Homo sapiens: one gene and its partners. The protein of the gene in region 6 purifies or fractionates together with the protein of the main gene of each other region. This does not show direct contact. Each region holds a gene or a part of one and is shown on either strand. Other genes may lie near its edges. The genes, in order: LRRC3, TCTN2, BACE1, PIGM, DPY19L4, KLRC3 and ITGB5.

Region 1 (3,278 bases), on a different chromosome or scaffold from region 6:
GATGCAGGTAGGGCAGGTGAACTGTTGCTGGCCTGGCCAGCAGGCCTAGGGTCACATGGTGATTGGCGTCCTCCTGCCACCCCTTCTCCATGCCAGGGTGCCTGTGGTGGGTTTGCCCAGCACGCATGACCCCAGGTCCCAAGGAGAGTGTGAACTGAGGCCTGGGTGGTGAAGGCAGGGCCTCTCCTCAGCCCTGTGTCCTGTGGGTGCCAGCCAGTCCCATCTCGCATTTTGGGGTGCCCTTTCCCTGCTGCCAGGGGACTCTTCATTTGTCCTTACCCTAGAATCAGCCCAGACACTGGACATCACCCAGACGTGGCCCTTCAGGAGGTGCACAGGGCAGGGGCAGGCCCGTCCCTCCCTGCCCCAATTTGCTGGGCTGCCTCAGCCCAGGGTCTGGCCTTCTCCTTGGTGAAGGTCTGCTGGGCCCCTGTCCACCTCCTGCTGGGAGGAGGAGATGGGGAGAGGACCAGGAGGACACCGGAGGCCCTGTCCCCTGCACTGTGAGCTCAGTCAGGTCCATGAGCTGCCCACCGTCCTGGCCTTACTGTGCCCCCTGCCCCACCAACATAGGTGAAAGCACCTCCCCTCTAAGGAAGACCATAGAGACCCCAACACTGTGGGACCCCAAAGCTCCTTCATGCTCACTGGAGCTCCCACCGTGGGTGCTTGCAAGTCCTCAGCGCTCCCGGGGTACAGCCCTCCCCTTCCTGCCCTCTAATGTCCTCCCCTCCCTTGCCCTTCCCTCCACTTCCTTTCTCTGCCGTCCCCTCCTCTCCCATCTTGTGACCTCTTTACTGGCGGGGCCTGGAGCCCATGATGGACACTTGCGGAAGGAGGGGTGGCGGAGCACCCCTGAGATGACATCGCTGCCTGCCCCAGAGCACCCCGCCTCTCCCTGTGACTCAGTTCTTTGCAGCCCAGATGTGAGCATGTGCACCCTGGGACCTGCTGCCCGTTGGGATGCCCAGGCCAAATCAGCCCCTCTGCCTCCATGCTGCACTGATTGCAAGAGTTTCCCACATCTGCAGAGGCCGTGGGCTCAGCCCCACACCAGCCAGGCCACCAGTGTTGATAGCGGTGAGGCGGGGACAAAGGGAATGTCTCAGTTCACAGTGTGGACATGGTGGAGGTCTCGGCCTTGCGAGACAAGGCAGGGGGAGGGGATAGGAAATTGGGGGTATTCTGTGACTCCTGGGCCACCGGGGAGCCAGAATCTTCCAGCCAGACTGGATGGGCAGGGCTTAGCTTCCTGATGCCGCCCATTCACCACTTTCACCCCGGGAACCTACCTGGGCATCATGGGAGGCAGAGCCTGAACCCCAACCCAACCCTAACTCTAATGCTAACCCCTAAACCATCCCCCACCCTAACCCAATCCTCGCCCTAACCCTAATGCTAACCCCTGACCCGACCCAATCCTAACCCTGATGCTAACCCCTGACTCAACTCTCACCCTAACCCTGATGCTAACCCCTGACCCAATCCTCACCCTAACCCTGATACTAACCCTTAACCTAACCCAACCCAGCCCTAACTCCAACTCTAAAGCTAACTCCTAACCCTAGGAGAGGAGCCCAGGCCGGGCCCTCTCCCTGCTGGTTTCCTGTTGGGCTTTGGAGCCCCAGATGCCTGCCCAGAGGCTTCCTTGTGCGGGGTGGGGTCCAGCAGTGGGGGATGGGCCCAGAGCTGGTATAGCCACCAGCAGAGCCATCCTGATCCACAGGACCATCCCTGGTGGGGTGGGGCCCCCTGGGGCAGGAAGGCCACTGAGGCCAGGGAGACTCCCAGGCCCACTCACGGCGCAGGCCCCACAGGAGCTGGCTGGAGGCTATGGGTGCGGGGCGTGGGCCTGCCGGGGGTTGCGTGACAGGCAGTGGGGAGTGGGTTGTGCTGGCAGCTGTGGGTGAGTGAGGAGGCTCCTCTCATGAAGGGCCCTGGGGAAGTGGAATCTGGCCCTGAGAGACCCCCGGCCTCCTCTGCAGGGGCTGCTGGCAGGAGGGGAACCGGGGACCACCTCCCGCCACAGAGCCTGGGGCCCCCAGCCTTGCCTACAGGGAGGGTAGATGAGAGTGTAAACTGCATATGAGGTTGGGCTAAACCTGGACATGTGTTTCATAACCAAAGCAGCCAGGAATCTCCGGCTCTGCCCAGTGATCATCTGGGCAGGACATGGGGACGAGTGTCCAGGCTGAAGTCAGGGCCCGGCCAGCAGAGGGCCATTTTGTATTGAGCTCCACAGCTGGTCACATTCTGTGGAATGTGCAGACGTGCACGGCCCATCAGACAGGGTCTGGAGTGGGGCTGCCGTCTTGGGCAGCTCCTCCCGGGTGTCTGCAAAATGCAGAGGTCACCAGAGCCAAGGCAGCAAGGCAAGGAGCCCGGCTTCTAAGGAACTCTGAGCAGGTGTGGTCCATGGCTGGGAGGCAGCTGGCCCCACAGCACATAGCACGGAGGGCGGCGCGGAGTCCTGGACGCTCTTGGCAGGTCCCCTCATGGAGGATGTGGGGGATTGGCTTAGGCCTGGTCTGGCTGGCCTTCCTGGACCGCAGTGGCCAGGAGCTGAAAACCGTGACCCCAGTCTCCCTGCAGCTGTTCTTGATGGGATTTCTGTTCGCCAGTCAGATGCATTTGCACAGGACTTGGATCCTGAACTGTGTAACCTGGAGAGGCAGGTGTGAGCGGGCCATGCTGCTGGCCCAGCCTGTGCCGGTGTCTGTTTCTGTTGTCTCTCGGCCCTTCTGTGAGCCCTCAGTAAAGCTCTTCGTGCTTCAGTCAGCAAGTGTGGATTCTGTCGTCGGCAACTCTGCGGCCCAAACCCCGAGCCTCCCCCTCCCCCAGACCTTGCAGTGCCATGGAGCTGAGGGACCTGTGGATCCACAGCTGTGGCCCCGGAAGGGCTGCAGGAGCTGAACCTGCGTGAGCCCCGCAGAGGGTGCAGAGCCGGCTTGTGCAGGCTCCCAGCAGGCTCATGACAGCGCGGATGGTTAAATGTAGCTCCTGACAGCCAACTGTTAAGGTTTCAGGCATTTTTGCACCAGGTGACATGATGGTAGCCTGAACGTGACCTTGGCAGCAGTCTCTACATCAAGGAAACTGGCAAATGTCAACATGCTGGGTACCCTCGCTCCTGCCGCCGCAGGCTGTCAGTGTCTTCCAGCCCACACTGCGGGGGGCCTTGTTGTGTGGCTGCCTCCCAGGCTGGGGCGAGGGTCTCCAGAGACCACCATCGTGCAGGCTCTTGGTCAATAGCAGGGTGTGGTGCTCCTGCCAGGGGA
Region 2 (3,500 bases), about 110 Mb from region 6:
CAAAAAATACGAAAAATCAGCCAGGCACACACCTGTACTCCAAGATACTCGGGAGGGTGAAGTGGGAGGATCACCTGAGCTCAAGAGGGTCAGGCTGCAACGAGCCGTGATCACACCACTGCGCTCCAGTCTGGGTGATGGAGTGAGACCTTGTCTCAAAAAACAAGCCAAAAAGAACGCATGCAATCAAAACCACAATGAGATACCACTTAGTATCTATTAGGATGGCTACTGTCAAAAAAAAAAACAAAAACAAAAAAACAAAAAACAAGGCTGGGCACAGTGGCTCACACCTGTAATCCCAGCACTTTAGGAGGCTGAGGAGGGCAGATCACCTGAGGTCAGGAGTTCAAGACCAGCCTGACTAACATGGAGAAACCCCATCTCTACTAAAAATACAAAATTAGCCAGGTGAGGTGGCACATGCCTGTAATCCCAGCTACTCAGGAGGCTGAGGCAGGAGAATCACTTGAACCTGGGAGGCAGAGGCTGCAGTGAGCTGAGATTATGCCATTGCACTCCAGCCTGGGCAACAAGAGTGAAACTCTGTCTCAAAACAAAAACAAAAACAAAAACAGAACATAGGCCAGCAGAGTGACTCATGCCTGTAATCCCAGCACTTTAGGAAGCCAAGGCAGGTGGAGGACCACCTGAGCCTGGGGAGGTTGGGGCTGCAGTAAGCCATGATTGCACCACTGCACCCGAGCCTGGGAAACACAGTGAGACCCTGTCTCAAAAAAAAAAAAAAAAAAGTTAATCACCCCAGTTACACTTTGCTCTGGCCTTTTTCATAGCTCTAGGAGTATAAGGTTCCAATGAGGCCAGGCGCGGTGGCTTACGCCTATAATCCCAGCACTTTGGGAGGCCAAGGTGGGCAAGGTCACTTGAGGTTAGGAGTTTGAGACCAACATTGTGAAACCCCATCTCTACTAAAAATACAAAAAAAATCAGCAGGCGTGGTGGTGCATGCCTGTAATCCCAGCTGCTAGGGAGGCTAAGGCAGGAGAATTGCTTGAACCGGAGAGGCAGAAGCTGCAATGAGCCGAGATCGCACCACTGCACTCCAGCCTAGGTGACAAAGTGAGACTTCATCTCAACAAAAAAAACCACACAACAACAACAAAAAAGGTTCCAATGAGCTGAACAAACTTTGGCAGAGACATTTGTTTAAATGTGGATGAAATTTGCTTAAATGTGGATGAACTGGCTTTAGTCCCAAGAAAAAGTTTATTTTCCCTCATATTGATGTTTGAATCAACTCTAAATTGTATTACATGTCTGTATTTATTATCACTTTTACACATTTTAATTGACTCTAATTTTTCATATTCATGCTGTCTTTGATATTCATGTAGTGAATTAATTCTAGGCAAACCATTCACATTGCCGATATATTCATCAATGAAACACTCACCTGAGCTGAGTACAATTTTCATTAATCCCGACTTCTAACAGGCATCCAGAGAGTACATTTTCTCCAAATAAAATGGGTTTGAAAGTTGCTGATGTACACAGACCCCTTCCAGCTATAAAAGAAAAAGATTATCCTCTTGCTACTTTTTGCTAAACAAAAGTAAAGATTAACTTCAGTTTTCCGTGAAAAACAGAAAACAGTAAGTAGAAATAAAGTTGCCAGTTTTCAAAAACTGAGATCACTGTTAGTCTAATCCTTTCAAAGCTGAACAAAGGTGCCTTTATCAGACTTCTCAGATCCTGAGCGGTGGTTTCTTCAGAAGTGACACTGCCTCTGGCAGGTGTGCGTAATTACCACTGAAGCACAGATTTCCTGCAGTTCAGAACGAAGTTATTTTCATGTCTCCAATTAGCACCATCCTGGGCTACAGGCAACAATAACATGGGACTCTCAAGCCAATCTCATATTTCAATCTTTTCTACTAGCAACCAGCACTTCAGGTGCAAACAATGTTAGCATTCCTTTTTAAAAAGCTGTAGAAGCAGGAAAAACCATCATCACTGTTATTCAGCAGCATGTACCTCTCTGCTAAATAAACCAACTAGGCTTTAAAATAATTGATTGCTTGATTAGATTCAAAATATGGTAATACTTCTAACACCAATTTGCCAAAGGGCTAATCATAATGACCAAACCGGATTACCCGATTGCCAAAGATGTAAAGTCGTGACATTATTCATCCTGTTGATATTTAGAGCTCGGACAGGCTTGCCAAGTTGGTAACCTAGACAAACACAACAAAGGAACGTGAGCCTGTTTCCTCCAGCATAGCAAGCCCTAACTCTGCAAATAATACAAGAGTCATGCACAAGGAAAGAAAACACATAGGCGAAGCTTTCGAAAATACCCTTGAGAGAAAGATGGCAACTTCGGGTCTCAAAAAAAACAGTAGCTAAAGAGAAAGAATGCTTCACATTTACAGCAACTTGTTACTATGTACAACAGACTATGTAAAAAAAAAAAATACATTGTTATCACAAAAAGAATACCATGTCGGCCAGGCGTAGTGGCTCACGCCTGTAATCCTAGCACTTTGGGAGGCCGAGGTGGGTGGATCACCTGAGGTCAGGAGTTCGAGACCAGTATGGCCAATATGGCAAAACCTCATCTCTACTAAAAGTACAAAAATTTGCTGAGGGTGTTGGTGGGCACCTGTAATCCCAGCTACTTGGGAGGCTGAGGCAGGAGAATTGCTTGAACCTGGAAGGTGGAGGTTGCAGTGAGCCCAAATCGTGCCATTGCACTCCAGCCTGGGTGACAAGAGTTAAACTCCGTCTCAAAAAAAAAAAAAATGAATACAGTGCCACAACAGAGAATAAAGAGGCTGGGGCAGTGGCTCATGCCTGTAATCACAACACTTTGGGAGGCTAAGGCCAGGGGATCACTTGAGGTCAGGAATTCAAGACCAGCCTGGCCAACACGGTGAACAACAGCCTATCTCTACTAAAAATATAAAAATTATATTAAAGTGAGCAACCCTGCAAGCCTCTCTTTGGAGAAGTAGCAGATGAATAAAACTTCCTGTGTTGTGTGATTAAAAAAAAAAAAAAAAAGCCAGGCATGGTGGTGTGCACCTGTAATCCCAGCTACTCAGGAGGCTGAGGCAAGAAAATCTCTTGAACCCAGGAGGTGCAGGTTGCAGTGAGCCGAGATTGCGCCACTGCACTCCAGACTAGGCAACAGAGCAAGACTCCGTCTCAAAAAAAGAAAAAGAGAAAATAAAGAAAAAGGTCAGAGTCAGAAACTAAATTGGAGAGAGTTACTTATAACCATCCTGATGGCTGGGAGTGTTGAACTAAAGTATGTTTGTAAGATCAATGACTGGCATATACTCATCTTACCTGGATTTCCAGATAATTCTTCTTCATTACCACTATTATAGCTTAAAAATTTTACTACAAATCTCTGTGTCATTATCCCTAGAAATAAAACAAAATAAAATATAATGTGCACCATTTCACTAGGAAAAGAAATTATTCTCCATAGTGTTTACCTTAAAATTGCATTTTGTCATACAAAGTGTACT
Region 3 (3,500 bases), on a different chromosome or scaffold from region 6:
CATCCGAGTGGTAGAGAAAGTGCCAGGCAGGGTGAATGTGGAACCTCTACAGCAAGTTCTAGAGAAGGGGTTTGTTCAAGCATCTCAGAAAAGCAGGTTGGTATTACACACCACTTCTGTGAAACGTGCTCAACATGTGGCAGCCCCACCTGTGTTTAATCACACCACTAACCAGGGCTTCTGTGTGTGGTGGGGGCAGTGATGGAACTGGAACGAGGAACTGGAGTGAATGCCCTTTCATCGATCCTACCTGCACCCTCCTCCCTGACTGCTTCTTTTAGATTGGGACATTAGAGGAAACAGGGAAGGTGCGTTTTGCAGCTGCCTACAAGTCCAAGGATAGGATTTAAGCCTCTACTCACGTTTGCACACACTGATGTCTCAGATATTGGTGTCCTCTCATCCCTTCTTCTTCCTGCTTTTATGCTAAGGGGGCTTCCAGATTACCCCTCACTGCCTCTTATCTTAAAGCCCACTTCAACCCCCCTTTCACCAGTCCCCCACTTTCACCAGTCCTCTTCAACCCCCCTTTCACCAGTAAGCTGAATCCAACTGGTGGCACCCTGGGTGGTGCATGGAGGAGATATTTCAGCTTTCAGTTCTGATACTGGTCTAGGCAGAGGGGTTTATGAAAGACCCTTTCCTTCATGTCCTTGGACTATGCAAAGCCACCTAGAGTGGCCCCTGGGTAAGAACACAGCAAGGGGAGCCGTCACTGAGGCCTGTTCAGCTTAGACTTAGCTGGTGTTAGAGAACTGAGAGACACCGAGGGGATGTGGGGTTTTCGTCTCCCCATTCAGGCAGAGAAAATGGGCCCCCTAAGATTGTTCTGTGAGCTATGGGCTCTTCTTCCTTTCCCTCCCACAGGAGGCTGCCCTGTCTCAGCACTGAAGCACTTCCTGGCTACCTCTCAATTCACCCTTTCCCATGGTATAGCTCCTCTCACCACCCACTTCACCCTGTCTCTCCTGGTCACTGTCTTTTTTTCGCCCTTCCCCTTCCCTGGCAAGAAGAAAATCTGAGGATCAACTCTTTCTCTCTGTACCCCTCCCCTGACCCTTCTTAGCCCTGGATCCTTGGAAAAGGTACTTCCCCCGGGCTCTCCCCAGGACTCACAGCTGCCTCTGGTAGTAGCGATGCAGGAAGGGGTGGGGGGCAGCACCCACTGCAAAGTTACTGCTGCCTGTATCCACCAGGATGTTGAGCTGTCAGAGAAAGGGGAGAGAAAAGACAGTATAGACAGGAGGCTTCGGTCACACCACCTTTATTATCCCTCACGCCCCAGCCACAGTCTGCCCCTTAGAATGTCCAGAGTGAAGCTCCACGATGCAGGACTGGTCCAGGCTGGCACCCGTTACCACCACGACCACAGACAGGACCTGGGGTCCTGTGGTGCTGCAGGGGCCAAAGGAACACTTCCCCTGTGCCCTCTGCAGGTCTGCTGAAAAACCAACTGAAAAAAGGCAGATTAGTAGAAGAACTAATATGCAAGGGAGTCAAAAAAATATAGGAAGTCAAAGAGATAGCCAGATGGTTGATGATTTTATACCATCTTGAGGTTACAGAAAGAATGGGAGCTTGGGCAAGGTGCAGTGGCTTACCCCTGTAATCCCAGCACTATGGGAGGCTGAGGCAGGTGGATCACCTGAGGTGAGGAGTTTGAGACCAGCCTGGCCAACAGGACGAAACTCTGTCTCTACTAAAAATACAAAAATTAGCTGGACATGGTGGCACATGCCTGTAGTCCCAGCTACTCAGGAGGCTGAGGCATGAGACTCACTTGACCCTGGGAGGTGGAGGTTGCAGTGAACTGAGACCATGCCACTGCACTCCAGCCTGGGCGACAGAGACCCTGTCTCAACAACAAAAAAAAAAGGGACTTGGACTTTGGCAAAAATAGTTATGGGAGGGATAAACGGAGGCCAGGCCAGTAAAAGTGGTCTTTTTATATGAATGAAACCTCATAGGTAACACCCCTCAGAGAAAACAGGTGATGTATGTGTCTTTCAGACCTTTAAACATGTCAGACTTTCAGTTAATCTTTCCTAGATTTGGACCAGGGAGGGCCTCAGAGAAAGCCAGGTTGCATCAATGCAGATTCTCTGCAGATGCAAATCTCCCTCAAAAGCCAGATTTGCAGGGCCACTTCTGTGTGCTGGCCCTCTGACAGCCGACTCAAAATACGTCAAAGTAGTATATTCTGGGGTAAAATATCTTGGTTTCCTTTGGCACCCTCAACATGGCCTTAGAAATGCTGTGTCTGAGGCCAGCACAGTGGCTCACAACTGTAATCCCAACACTTTGAGAGGCTAAGGCGGGTGGATCACTTGAGGTCAGGAGTTCAAGACCAGCCTGGTGAATGTAGTAAAATCCCATCTCTACTAAAAATACAAAGATTAGCCGGGTGTGGTGACGCACGCCTATAATCCCAGCTACTTGGGAGGCTGAGGCAGGAGAATCACTTGAACCCAGGAGGCGGAGGTTGCAGTGAGCCGAAATTACACCACTGCACTCCGGCCTGGACGAGAGCAACACTCCGTCTCAAAAAAAAAAAGAAAAGAAAAGAAACGCTGTGTCTGCTTCAGTCTATGGAGTCATAACATTTTGTGCGTCATCTCAGAGCTATGTGGTGTGTGTGCTGTCTCTGTTCCCATGTCTCTCTACCGTCACATCACCCCTGCTCACTGTGTACCTGACTGATTCTGTCTTCAGGGCCCCCTGCTCCTTTTCAATTCTCCCAGGAAGCAGTCTGGCTTATCCCCTCCAGCTCAGAGAAGACCTATTCTAGGAGCTGTACTGGTCAGGGGACCTGTGGGGACCAGGATGGCACATCAGTGTCCATGCGTGTGGTTCTGTCCCTGCCACCAGAATGTGGCTCCCCTTCTGTCTCACAGGTGACACAGACCTAGGAATCCTACTGTCAGAAATAGTGGGGAGCCAGGAGCCCCATAAAATGTCCTGGTGAAAACCCATCTTGTCAGGGCCCTGGATTTGGCTAAGTGAAGATGGACAGGTGTCTTGGTGTTCCCTTCTGTCCAGCTCTTTCTAGCATCACTTCTTTTTTTTGAGATGGAGTTTCGCTCTTGTTACCCAGGCTGGAGTGCAATGGCGCGATCTCGGCTCACTGCCATCTCCGCCTCCTGGGTTCAAGTGATTCTCCTGTCTCAGTCTCCTGAGTAGCTGGGATTACAAGTGTGCGCTACCACGCAGGGCTAATTTTTGTATTTTTAGTAGAGACGAGGTTTCACCACGTTGGCCAGGCTGGTCTCGAACTCCTGACCTCAGGTGATCCACCTGCCTCGGCCTCCCAAAGTGCTGAGGCGTGAGCTACCATGCCCGGCCTCTAGCATCACTTCTCCTTGGCCCTTTCTTCCTCCTTTGATGGCCTGACCCCACCTTCAGTCAGACCAGAGCCATTTTTTGAAAGTCTACTATATCCTCACAGGCAAAAAAAGGAAAGGCCCCACCCTCAGAAAAATGGTAATTTGTAAGTTGCATCT
Region 4 (4,015 bases), on a different chromosome or scaffold from region 6:
TTTGGGGTAAAAATAGCAGAGTCAGTTGCTGAGGACAATGACCTTCCTTATAACATTTAGTTTCATACCCATATTAGGTCTTGTCTTGAGGACCCTTTATATGTGCTTGTTTACTAGTGGCCTTCCAGCCATAGCATTCTTACCTTTTTTTCCTATTCTAAGAATTAAAAAAAAAAATTATAGAGCCAGCAAGGGAGGAGGCAGGAAACAGAAATCGAATTTCATCATTCCAGTATAGTTGTCCCTTTTTTTGTATTTCTGACTTGGTTTTATAATTATATTTACTTACTAATTATTGTTTTTTAACATTCTTTATTGTGGCTTACTCTTCATACTTAGAATTGAAATTGTTGGACATCACATGTATATTCACATTATAAATACATCATTCTTCCACTGTTAGACCTTTAGATTGCTTCCAGTTTTTAATATTCTAAATAAGACTTTCAACATTTTCTGTGTTTTAGCTCATTCTCTTAGGACATTCTTAGAAGTTAGAAACATTTCTGCTGGGATCGTTGGAGGGAACTTCAAACTTTGGAATCTTTCCTGCAAGAAATTCTTTACCAAAGAAAGGCAGGTGTTTCTTAAAGGGATGCAAAAGATATTTTGCACTTTGTATGTTCCAAAACATTTAGTAAGTTAACTAAAAAAATGAGTTAATTTGGTTTCTTGGGGGATTTTAATTTTTTAATTTGTTTTCTGGTTATGTAAAAAAAATGTTTTTTTTTTGCTTCTTATCACAATCCTTTTGTTTCCTTTTTAATCCTTTAATAACACCTTCAAATTTTATAAGACTTTGGCTTATTTCCTATATAATTCTTTTTTTCTTATACCACCTCTTAAGATTGATATGTTCATTTGCAGGTAAGCATTAATTATTAGATAAAGAGGGATGATTCTCAAGATTGTGTGTGTTCTGAACAGAGGGAACTACATGACATTTTCTTCTGTAATTGCCTTTGTAACGTCTTTAGAATGTGGTTCCTAAATATTCCTGGATAAATTCTCTTGATAGGCCCATTGGAAAGGCTAATACTCCCACCCAGTGCTTTGTTCCTTCCTGGCAAAAGAATTCCTAAAACCACTGATTTTAGTTACTGACTTCTCACCATCTGGACTCTTACAAGATGTTTCAGAAGTTGTGTAGAACTTGTCTTTCAGTTGACTTGTGGCTGAATTTACTGTTACTTCTCTAATATCAGTTGTTTTCTGCATTACCACCCTCTCCCCTAACCATCTGTACTATGAATGGAAAAGGAAAAAGATGGAAAAATTATACCTAGGATTGTCCCTAAATGCAACCTCTTGGTTCCCCCCACCCCTCATGTTTTATTATAAACGATTTTAAGAGCTGGGCATGGTGGTTCATGCCTATAATCCCAATGCTTTGGGAAGCTGAGGCAGGAGGATCACTTGAGGACAGGAGTTTGAGACCAGCCTGGACAACATAGTGAGACCCCCATCTGTACAAAAAAAAAAGTGCTACTTGGGAAGCTGAAGTGGGAGGACCACTTGAGCCCAGGAATTCGAGGAGGTTATAGTGAACTATGATTGTGCCACTGCACTCCAGCCTGGGTGACAGAGCAACACCTTGCCTCTAAAACAAACAGCTCCAACTATTTTATTTTTTTATTTTTCTGAGACAAGATGTTGCTTTGTCACCCAGGCTGGAGTGCAGTAGTATAAACATGGCTCACTGCAGCCGAACTCCCAGGCTCAAGTGATCCTTCCTCCTCAGCCTCCCAAGTAGCTGGGACCACAGGTATTTGCCACCATGCCTGGCTAATCTTTATTTTTTGTAGAGACGAGGTCTTGCTATGTTGCAAGAGGGAGATCACTTAAGTGATCTTCCCTCATTGGCTTCCCAAAGTGTTGGGATTCCAGGCGTGAGCCACTGCACCCCGCCTGACCTAACTATTTTAAACACTACTCATATTGCCATCATCTAAATTCAACAACAATTTGCCATATTTGCTTTATGTATATGTATAATTATATATTTATAAAATTTTTTGAACCATGTGAAGTTGCAAACATCATTGAACTTCACCACTAAATATATCAGCATGCATCTCCTAAAAATCAGGTATTTTCTTACAAAACCATAATTCTGCTATCTATTATGATTTAACATTCTGTCATTTTCAAATTTCTTCAGGTGTTTTTTGTTACATCTTAAAGAACAGACGTTCTTGGATCTCAAAGATTCCGAGGAAGGAAAGAACATGGTGGATAATCCATAATTAAGAAGTTTGAATCTTTTCCTAGTCTTAAAAACAAAGTGAGAACTAAAGGGGTTTACCTTCCATCAAAGTTGAACAAATTAATTCTTTTGTGTGTCATACTTTCTGTCTCTCTCCCTAAAAACATGGGGGTGGTAATCTCTTTGTTTTATCTGGTAGGTTTTCCAGATAAAAGATTATACAGGTTTGGAATCTTAATATCCAACCCCCAACTCCAAGCCCTGCCCCAACAACAACAGCTAATTATTTTACATCTTGATGATGGTAAATTTTTCATGATTAACCAATTTTGGGCACCTATTCCGCCATATATGGTTTTATTTAATTTTCACAGCAACACTTCAAAGTTGATATTCATATTCTAAATTTATAGATGAACGAAGAGGCTCAAAGATTAAACAACTTGCTAATAAGTGATTTTTACCCATGCTTTTTCCATTATATTATGTTTTGGATTTTTCCAGAGTACCCAAACCCAGCAGATGCATACTGCTCCAAAATAAATGGAACTCAATACTGGCTCTGTCAAGTGTCTCTTGCCAATCAATTGTCCTTCTAATCTTTTGAGGGGCAGTTCTCTCAGTTGTACCAAGTCACTGTCATCCCCAAACTTTTCAATGATTCCAGGCCTTTAACAACTCCCCTCCACCTCCAAACCCTCTCTCACCAAATTGTGTAATTTCTTTGTTTACTGCTGGCTTCATCATGCACTTTTCCTTCATAGCCTATTTTAAGAAGTTGATTTGCTGAACTGCTTTTTAGCCAAGCTATTTGTAAATCAAGCTACACAAAGTATGTGGCCATAATTTCCAAAAGGCAAATGATCATTGTTCAATTGCTGTTGCTCTGCAGTGTGCATTCATGCAGTTAAAAATTGTACTGCATTGATAGTACGGCATCAGAGAATAGATCACTTAGGTTCAAATCCCAGTGCATGATCCTGAGCAAGATTATCATATCTAGATACATTAGTTTTTATCTGTGAAATGGGAATGATAGCACAATCTTCATAGAATTGTTGGTAAGGATTAAGTGAGTTGATATGCTCAAAGTGTGCATGCTGGCATAGAACAAGTCACTGTTTACAAGCCTTTAAAGAAGGAGCTGTTCTGGCACTGTAAACTTGAACCTTTTTTCCCCAAATCTAATGGATATAGGCAAGGAAATTATATTTATATAAAATAAATGTTTGACTACCTTTGATCATAAACTTTATTCTCATCTTGACCTGTTCCTTTGAAAAGATAATAAATACTGATATGTGAAAAATGTATGGACAGATTATTCAGATGTCTGGTTGAGGCTTTACAGTTTTGTATATTTCTGTCAGACATTAAGCTGACTCTAAGCAGTGGAGGTTTGGTTTATGCCCCTAAATTACACAGCACTTCTTTTCTCCATTGTATCGAGGGGTCATTCAGGGGTTGCTGTTCTGGAGATGGAAGCACATGTCTCCTGCCTGGGTCAGAAGCGTCACAATAGCACAAGCATTTATTCAGCACTGGCCTAGGAGAACCATTCATTTAGTCAAAACAAGCATTTATATTCATTATCCTGAACAAAAACCAGACTAAATGAGAACATTTATAGCTGCTCAGGCACTCTGCTAATTGCTATGTCTGCTAGACAAAGTGAAATGACACTTACAGTGACTATTTAAAAATAATTTGGAGCATGAATATTTGAAGCTCAGTTCTTTTTACAAAGGAAATGTATAACCTTTGCTCTTCATTTTTTTTGGCAGTTATTTATAGATCCAGGCCCTGTGT
Region 5 (3,500 bases), on a different chromosome or scaffold from region 6:
TGAGTAGCTGGGACTATAAGCACCTGCCACCACATCTGGCTAATTTTTGTATTTTTAGAGGAGATGGGGTTTCACCATGTTGGCAAGGCTAGTCTTGATCTCCTGACCTCAAGTGATCCACCCGCCTCAGCCTCCCTAAGTGTTGGGATTACAGGCGTGAGCCACTGCACGCAGCCAAGAAAGCAATCCTTTTAGAAAGTCTATATTTTAAATAATACAATAATCATTTGTATTAAATACAACTTCATTCATTCATTTATTTTTGAGACAGGGTCTCTCTCTGTCACCCAGGCTGGAGTGTATGGCACAGTCAATAGCTCACTGCAGCCTCAGGCTTAAGTGATCCTCCTGCCTCAGCTTCCTGAGTAGCTGGGATTGCAGGCACACACCACCAAGCCTGGCTATTTTTTTTTTTTTTTTAAGTAGAGATGATGAGGTCTCACTATGTTGCCCAGACCGGTCTCAAACTCCAGGTCTCAAGTGATCCTCCTACCTGGGCCTCCCAAAGTGCTAGAATTATAGGTGTGAGCCACTACACCTGACCCCACTTCACTTTAAAATACAAGAATTGGCTAGACACAGTGGCTCACGCCTGTAATCCCAGCACTTTGGGAGGCCGAGGCGGGTGGATCACTTGAGGTCAGGAGTTCAAGAACAGCCTGGGCCAACATGGCAAAACCCCCACCTCTATTAAAAATACAAAAATTAGCTGGGTGTGGTGGTGGGCACCTGTAATCCCAGCTACTCAGGAGGCTGAGGCAGGAGACTCACTTGAATGCGGGAGGCAGAGGTTGCAGTGAGCCGAGATTGTGCCATTACACTCTAGCCTGGGCGACAAGAGCAAGACTACATCTCAAAAAATAAATAAATAAATAAAATAAAATAAAAGACTTTTGGTGGGGCATGGTGGCTCATGCCTGTAAGCTCAGCACTTTGGGAAGCCAAGGCAGGCGGGTCACCTGAGGTCAGGAGTTTGAGACCACCCTAGGCAACATGGTGAAACCACAACTCTACCAAAAAATATAAAAATCAGCCAGGCATTGGCCGGGCGCGGTGGCTCACACCTATAATCCCAGCACTTTGGGAGGCTGAGGTGGGTGGATCACTTGAGGTCAATTCAAGACCAGCCTGGCCAATATGGTGAAACCCCATCTCTACTAAAAATACAAAAAAATTAGCTGGGCATTGTGGCATGTGCCTGTAATCCCAGCTACTCGGGAGGCTGAGGCAAGAAAATTGCTTGAACCTGGGAGGCAGAGGTTGCAGTGAGCCAAGATCGCGCCACTGCACTCCAGCCTGGGCAACAGAGAAAGACTCCATCTCAAAAAAAAAAAAAAAAATTAGCCAGGCATGGTGGCATGTGCCTGTGGTCCCAGCTACTGGGGAGGCTGAGGTGGGAGAATCACTTGCATCCATGAGCCAGAGGTTACAGTGAGCCAAGATCGTGCCATTGCACTCCAGCCTAAGCAACAGAGTAAGACTCTGTCTCAAAAAGAAAGTAAAAAAAAAAAATAAGTAAAATATAAGACTTTCTTTTTTTTTGAGACGGAGTCTCGCTCTGTCGCCCAGGCTGGAGTGCAGTGGCGAGATCTCAGCTCGCTGCAAGCTCTGCCTCCTGGGTTCACGCCATTCTCCTGCCTCAGCCTCCCGAGTAGCTGGGACTACAGGCGCCCGCCACCACACTTGGCTAATTTTTTGTATTTTTAGTAGAGATGGCGTTTCACCGTGTTAGCCAGGATGGTCTCTATCTCCTGACTTCGTGATCCACCTGCCTCAGCCTCCCAAAGTGCTGGGATTACAGGCGTGAGCCACCGCACCCGGCCATAAAATATAAGATTTTCTAAACCTAGTCTATGAGTATTATTATAACTTTCTGTCTTTCTAAAAATAAATCCTAATAGAATTTTAGAAAAGTACACAGCAACTCAAAATGTCCTGTAACAGGCACTTTCTGACATAACAAAAAATCATCTTGTCCTCCTAGTTGCCAGACTGGATTTTCTAATTCCATTCTATACTAAAAGGAACCAAAGCGCCAATGAGAAATGGCTATTTACAAATCTTCTGCAGCAAAAGTGCAAACCTACTCACCTTGTTGAGCCAGAAAACAAGAAAGCTTTCAAAGATTAACAAAGTTGTGTCAAAAGAACTCAGGAGCCGGCCTGAAAGGTACTCCTATTAACCAAGGGTGTGACAATTTGAGCAACAGAAGAACATTGATCAAAATGTTCTGAATCAATGAAATCAATTAAAATGAATCACTGAATCAATAAAAATCCATAAGTACAGAAAGATGCTTAGAAAAGAGAACACCAGAATCAAAGGTTTTTGTCACTGAGAAAGCTATTAAATTAATCTCTTATTTAGAAATTGGTAAATTGAAATTAAGCATTTGTCTTCACTTTCTAATAGTGACTTGAAGGTAACCAAAAAGCCCTGGTTAATGAGGAAAAATTCTACTTTTGAAGAATGAAGAATGTAGCTAATGAAAATAGAAAAATATAATTTTATAAAACCTAATAAAATTACTACTTTAAGGCAAAGGTTACAAACTGGTGTTACAACTGTTAGGTAAATGCTTAATGGTAAAAAGGACATTCATTTGGTGCTAAAAAACGCCACACAGATTATTCTCCAGTTATTAGAGAAAAACATAACTATTCAATGGAGAGATCTGACTGCCATTCCCCCAAACCAGTAGTCAATCTCAGCTTCACTAGGGGTTGATCAATTAACTATAATTTCTACTGTCATGGAACATGAAAAATATATAATCTACCATATATTTCAACCAGAACTGTTTATTTTGAACCCATCAAGCCTTTACACATAACTTTCAGATTACAGAAACACAGGAGATAAAGGTAAAAGCTAAATGACACCACAGGATGCAACAAGACTTAGTCTCTTCAACATAAAAAGGGGGACTATGTTAGATTTACAGAGTATTAAGGAACATAACAACCAGATGCACTATGGAGTCCTGGATTAAATCCTGATTTGGATAAATCAGCTATATAGAGTATTTTAGGGTCAACCAGGGAAACTGTAATAAGGTCTGGGTATTAGATAAGATAAAAAGTTATAGAAATGGAAAGGCAGTGACAGTTGAATAGAGAAAGCAGCATAAAAAAAACAGTATTGCAGCCGGGCGCAGTGGCTCACACCTGTAATCCCAACACTTTGGGAGGCCAAGGTGGGTGGATCACGAGGTCAGGAGATTGAGACCATCCTGACCAAGATAGTGAAACTCTGTCTCTACTAAAAATACAAAAAAATTAGCCGGGTTTGGTGGCGGGCGCCTGTAGTCCCAGCTACTCCCGAGGCTGAGGCAGGAGAATGGTGTGAACCTGGGAGGTGGAGCTTGCAGTGAGCCGAGATCGCACCACTGCACTCCAGCCTAGGTGACAGGGCAAGACTCCGTCTCAAAAAAATGAAAAACAAAAACAAAACCAAAACAAAACCAAAACAGTATTGTAAATAGACCTGATTTTGGTAAA
Region 6 (4,069 bases):
AGATAACCGCAATAATATGGAGGAATTCCACAAATATCAGATAGGAGTGAAAAAGACAGACATGAAATTCACACTGTATAATTCCGTTTTTTATAAATTCAAGAACAGGCAAACCTTATTTATAACTTCAAAAGTCAAGACAGTGTTTTGGAGAGGAGTCAGGATAAGTGATGAGGGCATACACAGGGGTGGAACTGCTAGAGCTGGAAACTTATTTCATGATCTCACTTGTATCACATGAGATCATTCACTTTGTGATCAATCTGCATGACTAGATCATATCATGCTCAATAAAATTAAATAGTAAAATTTATTGTGGATTCAAAGCATTAATAGAAGCATGGTTTTCCATAAAAAGCAAAAACTGAAAATAAAAGTACATTAGCGGTATATAACTTTAAAAACATTATTAAGTCAATCAACTGAATAATGCATACACTTGAAAATATATAAGCTAAATATATGTACACACATATGGATGTTTTCTACAAATGTATTATTCACTGAAAGAAGCTTTTCATAAAATGTTTGAAACATTTACATCTTACCATTTCTTCTTCATTATCTATACAAAGCAGACTAGAAGAGTTCTTTGAAGCACAGGCCTGCAAACTCTCTTCCCAAGTTCTTCTTTCCTTACCAATGTAATAACAACTGTTGGAATATGTAATCCACTCCTCAGGACAATGGCCACAATGACGTGCTAATAAAGATATGAATTACTATCTAGACCAATATGAATTTTTAAAAATGAAAATTAGTTCACATATTTGCAACAGTATAAACATATATGTGCTTAACATATTTATGCATCCTTACAGGCTTATAAGTATATATTTTTTAATAACTGAGTCAGTCATACACACATACACAGAAAAGGGTTAGCCTCTCTCCCCTAATTGTGTTCCCATATAAAGCAAACCAACAAACAAAAATACACTCCACACATGTCTTGAACCTCACTGATACACAACTGCTTTTTTAGAATAGTAAAATTATTTATTTGGTATCATCTCACAGCAGTAGGAGACTTCTGTTAATTGGGAGAAAGAGGGTAGAATGATTTTAAGTGAGTATTTCTACTTACTGGAGAAAAGGAAATGCTGCCTCATAATCTTTCTTTATAAATATTTATGGCTGAATTTATGGCTTATTTTCTGCAAAAATGCCACTATTCTTTTACATGCCTTAAAACAGACACAAAATATAAATTGTACTAATATCAGAGCATTGAAAATAAAAATGTACCTTTCTGGGTTCTTGCATTCGGGGAAGAATTGTTCTGCTCCAGGACTGTAATAGAAAAATTAAAATGATTTTTATAAAAACTGATATCTAGATAAACCATAATGAGTTTAGTTTCTTACTTTGAAACTTTGTGTGTTATTTAAAATGGGGAGAATCTTTAATAAAATTAACTTTTTCTATAAAAATATATAAAGTAATAGACCTTTGAAATAAACATTTTTAAAGACTTTAGCACAAAACTTCACCATCTCTTGTAGTATTTGATGTAACCACTTTCAAAAATTAGTTTTTCTAAATACTTTTCTTCTATAGCATGCCTTTGAATTATGAAATCAGAAAATATCTTTGTGTGTGTATGTATATACATATATATAGATTACACACAAAAAATAAACACATGTTCTCTACAATGATTTTGTTATTTATGTTGTGAAAAATTCAGAATAACCATATTATTTTGGTTCCAAATTGTACTAATATCAGAACTTTGAAAATAAAAATGTACTTTTCTGGGTTCTTGTATTTGGGGAAGAATTGTTCTGCTCCAGGACTGTAATAGAAAAATTAAAATGATTTTTATAAAAAGTAATATTTAGATAAACCATAATGAGTTTAGTTTCTTACTTTGAAACTTTGTGTGTTATTTAAAATGGGGACAATCTTTAATAAAATTAACTTTTTCTATAAAAATAAATGAAGTAATAGATCTTTGAAAGAAACAGTAAAATAAGAGTTCTATTCTTCAACAGTATGAAATATTTTGAGGCACTTCCAAGCATTAAAGTAAAACGTTCCCTTCTAATCTTTCAAGAATATGCTTACAAGGAATAAGAACTATTGTTTTTAACACAGTGGCCATCAGGACAATGCAAATGATTCCTAGGACCTCGGCAGTGAGCTTTTCTGGAGGTGGCAGTAAACCTGCAGGGAGAGAAATAGAGGCACTGAGAGAGGGGAGATAGAGAGTTGATTAGGATTACATACTAGAGAATTACATACTAGAGAACCCACATGCACAGGGAAACATAATGATAAACTCTGGCCGCTAAATCTACATCTACTCTAGTAATCTTTCTCTCAGAATATACCATTTCATTTTCAGTAAATGTAATGTTCCATGAGTGGATTGCAGATTACAGTTGATTACAGTTGAACAATGCCTGAATAAAATTAGTCTTCTGATTTCATATTAGAATATTAGATCCCATTTATGAACTCTGATTCTCACAAGTGTAAAATATTCCCTAATCTTTCCTCACCCTTCTGCATTCAACTGCACATCCCAGAACAATAACATTGAAGATATATTTAATGTTTTACCTTGGCAGTCATATATTTTATCAATCCCTTGATGATTCAGAGAAGCATTTTGAAGGTTTAATTCTACTTGGAATATTTCCTGTTCGGTTCCTGAAATGGAGCTTTTATTGCCTTTAGGTTTCCTTTGCTGCCACTTTGGGTCCTGGGCCAGACTCACTTCTGAGAAGGTTCCTCTTTGTTTACTCATCTCTGCAGCTGTGTGATGTGAGGGACTGTGCTCTATGATAACTGCACTTAAGAAGCTATAAATGGTGTATATTTTGACAGGATCCCTGGTATAGGCAATGTGCATGTGTTGGGGCTGAGTAATAATGTTTACTTTGCTGTTAACCTAGGTAAAATTCTGCTACTAATTTCCTAAAGCTTTAAACAAAAATCACACGATATAATTGGCCATTTTTTAGATGTATTCTGTATTTGACATAATATTACTAGTGGGAACAATAAAAACATTAAACTTGTGAGAACTAGGAAGTTCATGAAAAAAATTGGTATTAAATTAAGGTTAGATTCTTCAAAAATGTTTAACACCAATAGACTGCATACTTTAACAATTAAAATACTGTATTTAGAAATACACTAATTTTACCATAGTTTTAAGAGTCATTGATGGTTAATGATTGTGTGCCATAAGATAAAATAGTTCTGTCAGCATACAGAGTAACTTCTTATACTAACATACATTGTTAGTGAGTTACATTCATTTATTAAAAGGACCTGAGGTATTGTCAACTGATTATTTTTCTAAATTAGGAAATCAGAAAAATCATTAAAATTTTAAAAATATATCTTGTAAAACATTACATTACTGTATGCATAAATACTATTGAAAACATAATATATTTTTAAATTGCTGCTTTTACACAAGAAATTGGTAATTGATTTAATGACTAAAATAGGAAAACTTAAAATGATAAATAAACGTGTGGGCCGTCTATGGAAGAATAGTGTCCAATCAAACTTTCAGAAAGCTCCTATGATTGTATAAGTCAGTGAGGGTCGCTTTGGTTGTATAAGTAATTGTAATAGTTCAGATAATGTAATTTAATAATCTAGTCAATGAGCTCTGTAGTCAGTGAGACTACAATTAATTCTAGCTTTGCAAGTTGTAATATGTGACCTGTACTAAATTACTTAGTGTCTACTAACCTAGTTTACTAATCTACATTGGGAAAAATAATTTATAAAGTATAATGTATGTAGAAAACTAAACACACAACCTGGCACATATTAGCACTGAATACATAATAGATATTTCAACTATTTTTAACACAATTGCCATTTTATTATTTCTGATTTGCATTAGAGTGTGTTAAAATAACTCATTAATTAGGCGTCTCATGTCAGTGTGGTACATCTTTTTTGCAATGTTTGGTTCAATTGTTTTAAGTCTTCCAATTGTTTATAATTAAGGTCAGATTTGCATTTTATGGAAATGATTTCATCCTTACTTTTATTAAAAATTAAAACTGCTTTCATGAAATCTAGGTGTGTGATTGAG
Region 7 (3,500 bases), on a different chromosome or scaffold from region 6:
TTGCAGTGAGTCAAGATCACACCACTGTACTCCAGCCTGGGCAACAGAGTGAGACTCCATCTCAAAATAAAATAAAAAAGAAAGGGAAAAAGAAAAGAAAAAGTACATATGTAAAAGTTTGTTTGTTTGTTTGTTTGTTTGAGACAGAGTCTCTGTCTCCCAGGCTAGAGTACGGTGGTGTGATCTCAGCTCACTGCAACCTCGGCCTCCAAAGTTCAAGCGATCCTCCTGCCTCAGCCTCCTGAGTAGCTGGGATTACAGGTGCACACCACCATGCCTGGCTAATTTTTGTATTTTTAGTAGAGACTGGATTTTGCCATGTTGGCCAGGGTGGTCTCGAACTCCTGACCTCAGGTAATCTGCCTGCCTCGGCCTCCCAAAGTGCTGGGATGATAGGTGTGAGCCACCCTGCCTGGCCAAATCTTTTAAATAAAGTTTTTCTAAGCCCATTAAAATCCTGGGGTGAGAGAAGGGATCATCTGAGTACCAAGCATTGTGGCTGTGTCAGGGACACAGGTAAATAAGACCAGGGCTATTAACCAGGTAGCAGGTGAGACAGACCAGCTGCAGCCCCCAGTCTCTCTAATGGAATGGGCCATGAAAGCAGGAGGAGGAGGAGATAGTTCTGCTCCACCCAGGGATGTAGGGAAGGAGAACAGGATATACTGGGTATAAAAGATCAGAGGACTTGTTCTGTCACTTATTGGTTATGTGACCTAGGGCAAGTCACTTAACCTTTCCAGGCCTCAGCTTCCTCATGCAAACAACTCAGGGAGTAGACCAAATGGCCTCCATACCAGCTCAAAAAATCCTAACACAAAGCCAGGAGTGGTGGCTCATGCCTGTAATCCCAGCACTTTGGGAGGCCAAGGTGGGCAGATCACCTGAGGTCAGGAGTTCAAGACCAGCCTGGCCAACATGGTGAAACCCCATCTCTACTAAAAATTAAAAAATAAGCCAGGTGCGGTGGTGTACGCCTGTAATCCCAGCTACTCGGGAGGCTGAGGCAGGAGAATCGCTTGAACCTGGGAGGCAGAGGTTGCGGTGACCAGAGATTGCACCACTGCACTCCAGCCTGGGCAACAGAGTGAGACTCCAATTAAAAAAAAAATCCTGACACATTCCAACAGAATCTCTTTCTCCCAGGATGTTTCTTCCTAACAAGCCGCATGCATAGTCCCTGACTTCAAAGCTAGCTGTGGAAGGCAACAGGGAGTTGAGGACGGGATGCATCGCCCTCTTCACCTCCCAATTACCAAGATTCAGGTTCATCCATTATTCATTCAACAAATATGTGCCTGGTGCTGTTGTAGGCATGGAGGATACAGAGATGAATAAAACCAACAAGACTCCCTTATTCACGGAGCTCACATCCTGGCTGGGGGAGAATTCTACTTAGGGGAAATAGTGAAGAAGATATGTAGTTACATTAGATGGTGGTGAGTGCTAAGGACAAAAATTAAAGAAGAAAAGCAGATAAAAAGAACTCGGGATATAGGGAGGAGGTTGCAGCTTTAGCTGGGAGCGGCCAGGGAAAACTTGGCTGAGCAGGAGATGCTAGAAAAAGGGTTGCAGGGTGGAGGAAGCCGGTCATGCAGATATCTTGGAGGACAGTATTCCAGGCAGGGAGAAGGGCTGCCATGGGAGCATGGCTGGCACGCTGAAGGGACAGTGGGAGGCCCATGCTGCTGGAGCAAAGGATCGAAGGGAAAGTGGTGAAGGAAAGTCAGAGAAGTAGGTGGAGAGTTCGTGGAGCCTGGCAGGACTCTGGGAAACCATTCGAAGGTTTTAAGCAGAGAGATATGATCTGACTTGAGTTGGATCTCAGGATCACTCTGAGGGACAGTTGAGAATAACTAAAGAGAACAAGTTGCAGAAGTAGGTCCCAGCTCTACAAGAGACAACCAGCTCTGAAAATGTCTGGCTGGAGTTGGGGAGGGAATCCTATAAAGAGAGGGCAGGGTACCCCGCAGTGCCTTCAAAGCATCAGCCTTAGGGGATGAGTCAAGCCTGTCTTAGAGCAAACTTTTCACCATGAGGCCCGGGAAGTAAACCCTGCATTCAACGGAAGCAAGAAGCCTCAGAAACAAATGGGTGCCTCTAAATAAAGCATTCCTTTACATTTATAGAGGCCATTAATCCCATTCGAACCGGAAAGAAGGAAAACAAACCACGGCAGTCAGTTCTCCAAGGCCCTCGGCTCCAGCCAACTGGAAATACCTGTGAAAAGAGACCCTATCCCATTAACCCAGCTGCACACTGCCATGTGAAAGGGGCCCTATTATTTAAGTAGTTTGTAATTGTCCCACATTACTGATATCGTTAAAGCATCTCAGAATATTTCCATGGCCAGGCTGAATAAGAAAAAGTAGTTACCAGGCCACGCAGGCACAAAAGGCCTTTTGCCAAACTACTTAGATATTTTAATTCCCCGTTGCCTCAGTAGCTAAATAAGCATGGAGAACAAGCAGGCGGGGAATACTAATTAGAGCTAATTAGACCCTGCCCTCTTCTGCCTCAATCCCCTTTATAAAAAGCTCCCCCAACTCAAGGATGATGGAGTTAAAATGTAAATCCATAGGATAAACAGCAGTCTACAGACCAAACCCACTGTTTGTATTTCATTGTCCTGTCAGCTCTAAACCTGTGCCTGGTTACCTACAGAGAGCTGCAGACCCAGCCAAATTCCAACAACCCCATCACAGACCACAGGAAATGTGGTAGGGGGTTGGGGGTAGAGGAAGGGTGCTGCCAACATGAGTCCACTAAATAAAACAAAGGGCTTTCTTAGGATGTGCAGAGCATTCACTAGAAGAACATTCGATTGCTTTTTTAAAAAGAAATGAATGTGATAGCACACATAATTCCAGCGGTGTTGCAGGATCCTCTTTATAAGACGGTGTTCCTCTCTCTGTCTTAGCAAAGGCAGCGTGGAAAAGCCTCACCTCAGTGAGACCCCTGGTTTTGTGGGAAGACCACATCCTAGGATTCTGTCTGAAGGCTCTTGGCCATAAGATAATAAAAAGAGCAGGAGATAGCCCTTGGTGGGGACGGGAGGGGGTTGTCAGCCGGCCAGGGACTTGTTTGAAATGAGCCCCTGAAACCTAAGGTCAGTTTCCTGCTGGAAATCCGTACTGAGATGAAAGTGGGGTTAGAGCAACAGAGAGAGGCACTCAACCACTGGTCCAGGAACACCCAGGCAGGCATGGCCCTGAGGGTCATCTCTTTCTTTTCTCTGAGTAACTAGGTTTTTTTCTTTCAAATAATGTTCCTAGTGGCAAGACAGAAACACTCCCTGAATAAAGTACCTGTAGTGCTTCAAGAAAACAAAGAAGGGAAGGGAAGCAAAAAAAAAAAAGAAAAAAAAAAAGAATGTTGAAGTTAATTCAGCAACACTGAAAAACTAGGAGAAATGACACAGATGTGAGTCAACCTCTGCTAATCCTGAGAAGCTTCAGGGCCCTAAGAGGTAAGCAGCAAGTTCTGGAGGCCAGTGCCAT

Evidence for each region.
Region 1: the proteins of KLRC3 (region 6) and LRRC3 purify together in Homo sapiens (affinity purification with mass spectrometry; one large-scale study listed by BioGRID and IntAct). This does not show direct contact.
Region 2: the proteins of KLRC3 (region 6) and TCTN2 purify together in Homo sapiens (affinity purification with mass spectrometry; one large-scale study listed by BioGRID and IntAct). This does not show direct contact.
Region 3: the proteins of KLRC3 (region 6) and BACE1 purify together in Homo sapiens (affinity purification with mass spectrometry; one large-scale study listed by BioGRID and IntAct). This does not show direct contact.
Region 4: the proteins of KLRC3 (region 6) and PIGM purify together in Homo sapiens (affinity purification with mass spectrometry; one large-scale study listed by BioGRID and IntAct). This does not show direct contact.
Region 5: the proteins of KLRC3 (region 6) and DPY19L4 purify together in Homo sapiens (affinity purification with mass spectrometry; one large-scale study listed by BioGRID and IntAct). This does not show direct contact.
Region 7: the proteins of KLRC3 (region 6) and ITGB5 purify together in Homo sapiens (affinity purification with mass spectrometry; one large-scale study listed by BioGRID and IntAct). This does not show direct contact.

Annotation. Positions count from the first base shown.
Region 1 is NC_000021.9:44,459,419-44,462,696, forward strand, and holds the end of LRRC3 (leucine-rich repeat-containing protein 3 precursor), read left to right. Parts: 3' UTR 1-2,778; downstream 2,779-3,278.
Region 2 is NC_000012.12:123,695,113-123,698,612, reverse strand, and holds part of TCTN2 (tectonic-2 isoform 1 precursor), read right to left. Parts: intron 3,394-3,500; coding exon 3,316-3,393; intron 2,199-3,315; coding exon 2,118-2,198; intron 1,527-2,117; coding exon 1,415-1,526; intron 1-1,414.
Region 3 is NC_000011.10:117,295,757-117,299,256, forward strand, and holds part of BACE1 (beta-secretase 1 isoform A preproprotein), read right to left. Parts: intron 1,206-3,500; coding exon 1,117-1,205; intron 1-1,116. UniProt on the Homo sapiens protein: Responsible for the proteolytic processing of the amyloid precursor protein (APP).
Region 4 is NC_000001.11:160,024,453-160,028,467, reverse strand, and holds the end of PIGM (GPI alpha-1,4-mannosyltransferase I, catalytic subunit), read left to right. Parts: 3' UTR 1-3,515; downstream 3,516-4,015.
Region 5 is NC_000008.11:94,740,400-94,743,899, reverse strand, and holds part of DPY19L4 (probable C-mannosyltransferase DPY19L4), read right to left. Parts: intron 1-3,500. UniProt on the Homo sapiens protein: Probable C-mannosyltransferase that mediates C-mannosylation of tryptophan residues on target proteins.
Region 6 is NC_000012.12:10,417,796-10,421,864, forward strand, and holds the start of KLRC3 (NKG2-E type II integral membrane protein), read right to left. Parts: upstream 2,801-4,069; 5' UTR 2,756-2,800; coding exon 2,569-2,755; intron 2,170-2,568; coding exon 2,071-2,169; intron 1,294-2,070; coding exon 1,249-1,293; intron 704-1,248; coding exon 549-703; intron 1-548. UniProt on the Homo sapiens protein: Plays a role as a receptor for the recognition of MHC class I HLA-E molecules by NK cells and some cytotoxic T-cells.
Region 7 is NC_000003.12:124,880,866-124,884,365, forward strand, and holds part of ITGB5 (integrin beta-5 isoform a precursor), read right to left. Parts: intron 996-3,500; exon of another isoform or gene 978-995; intron 1-977.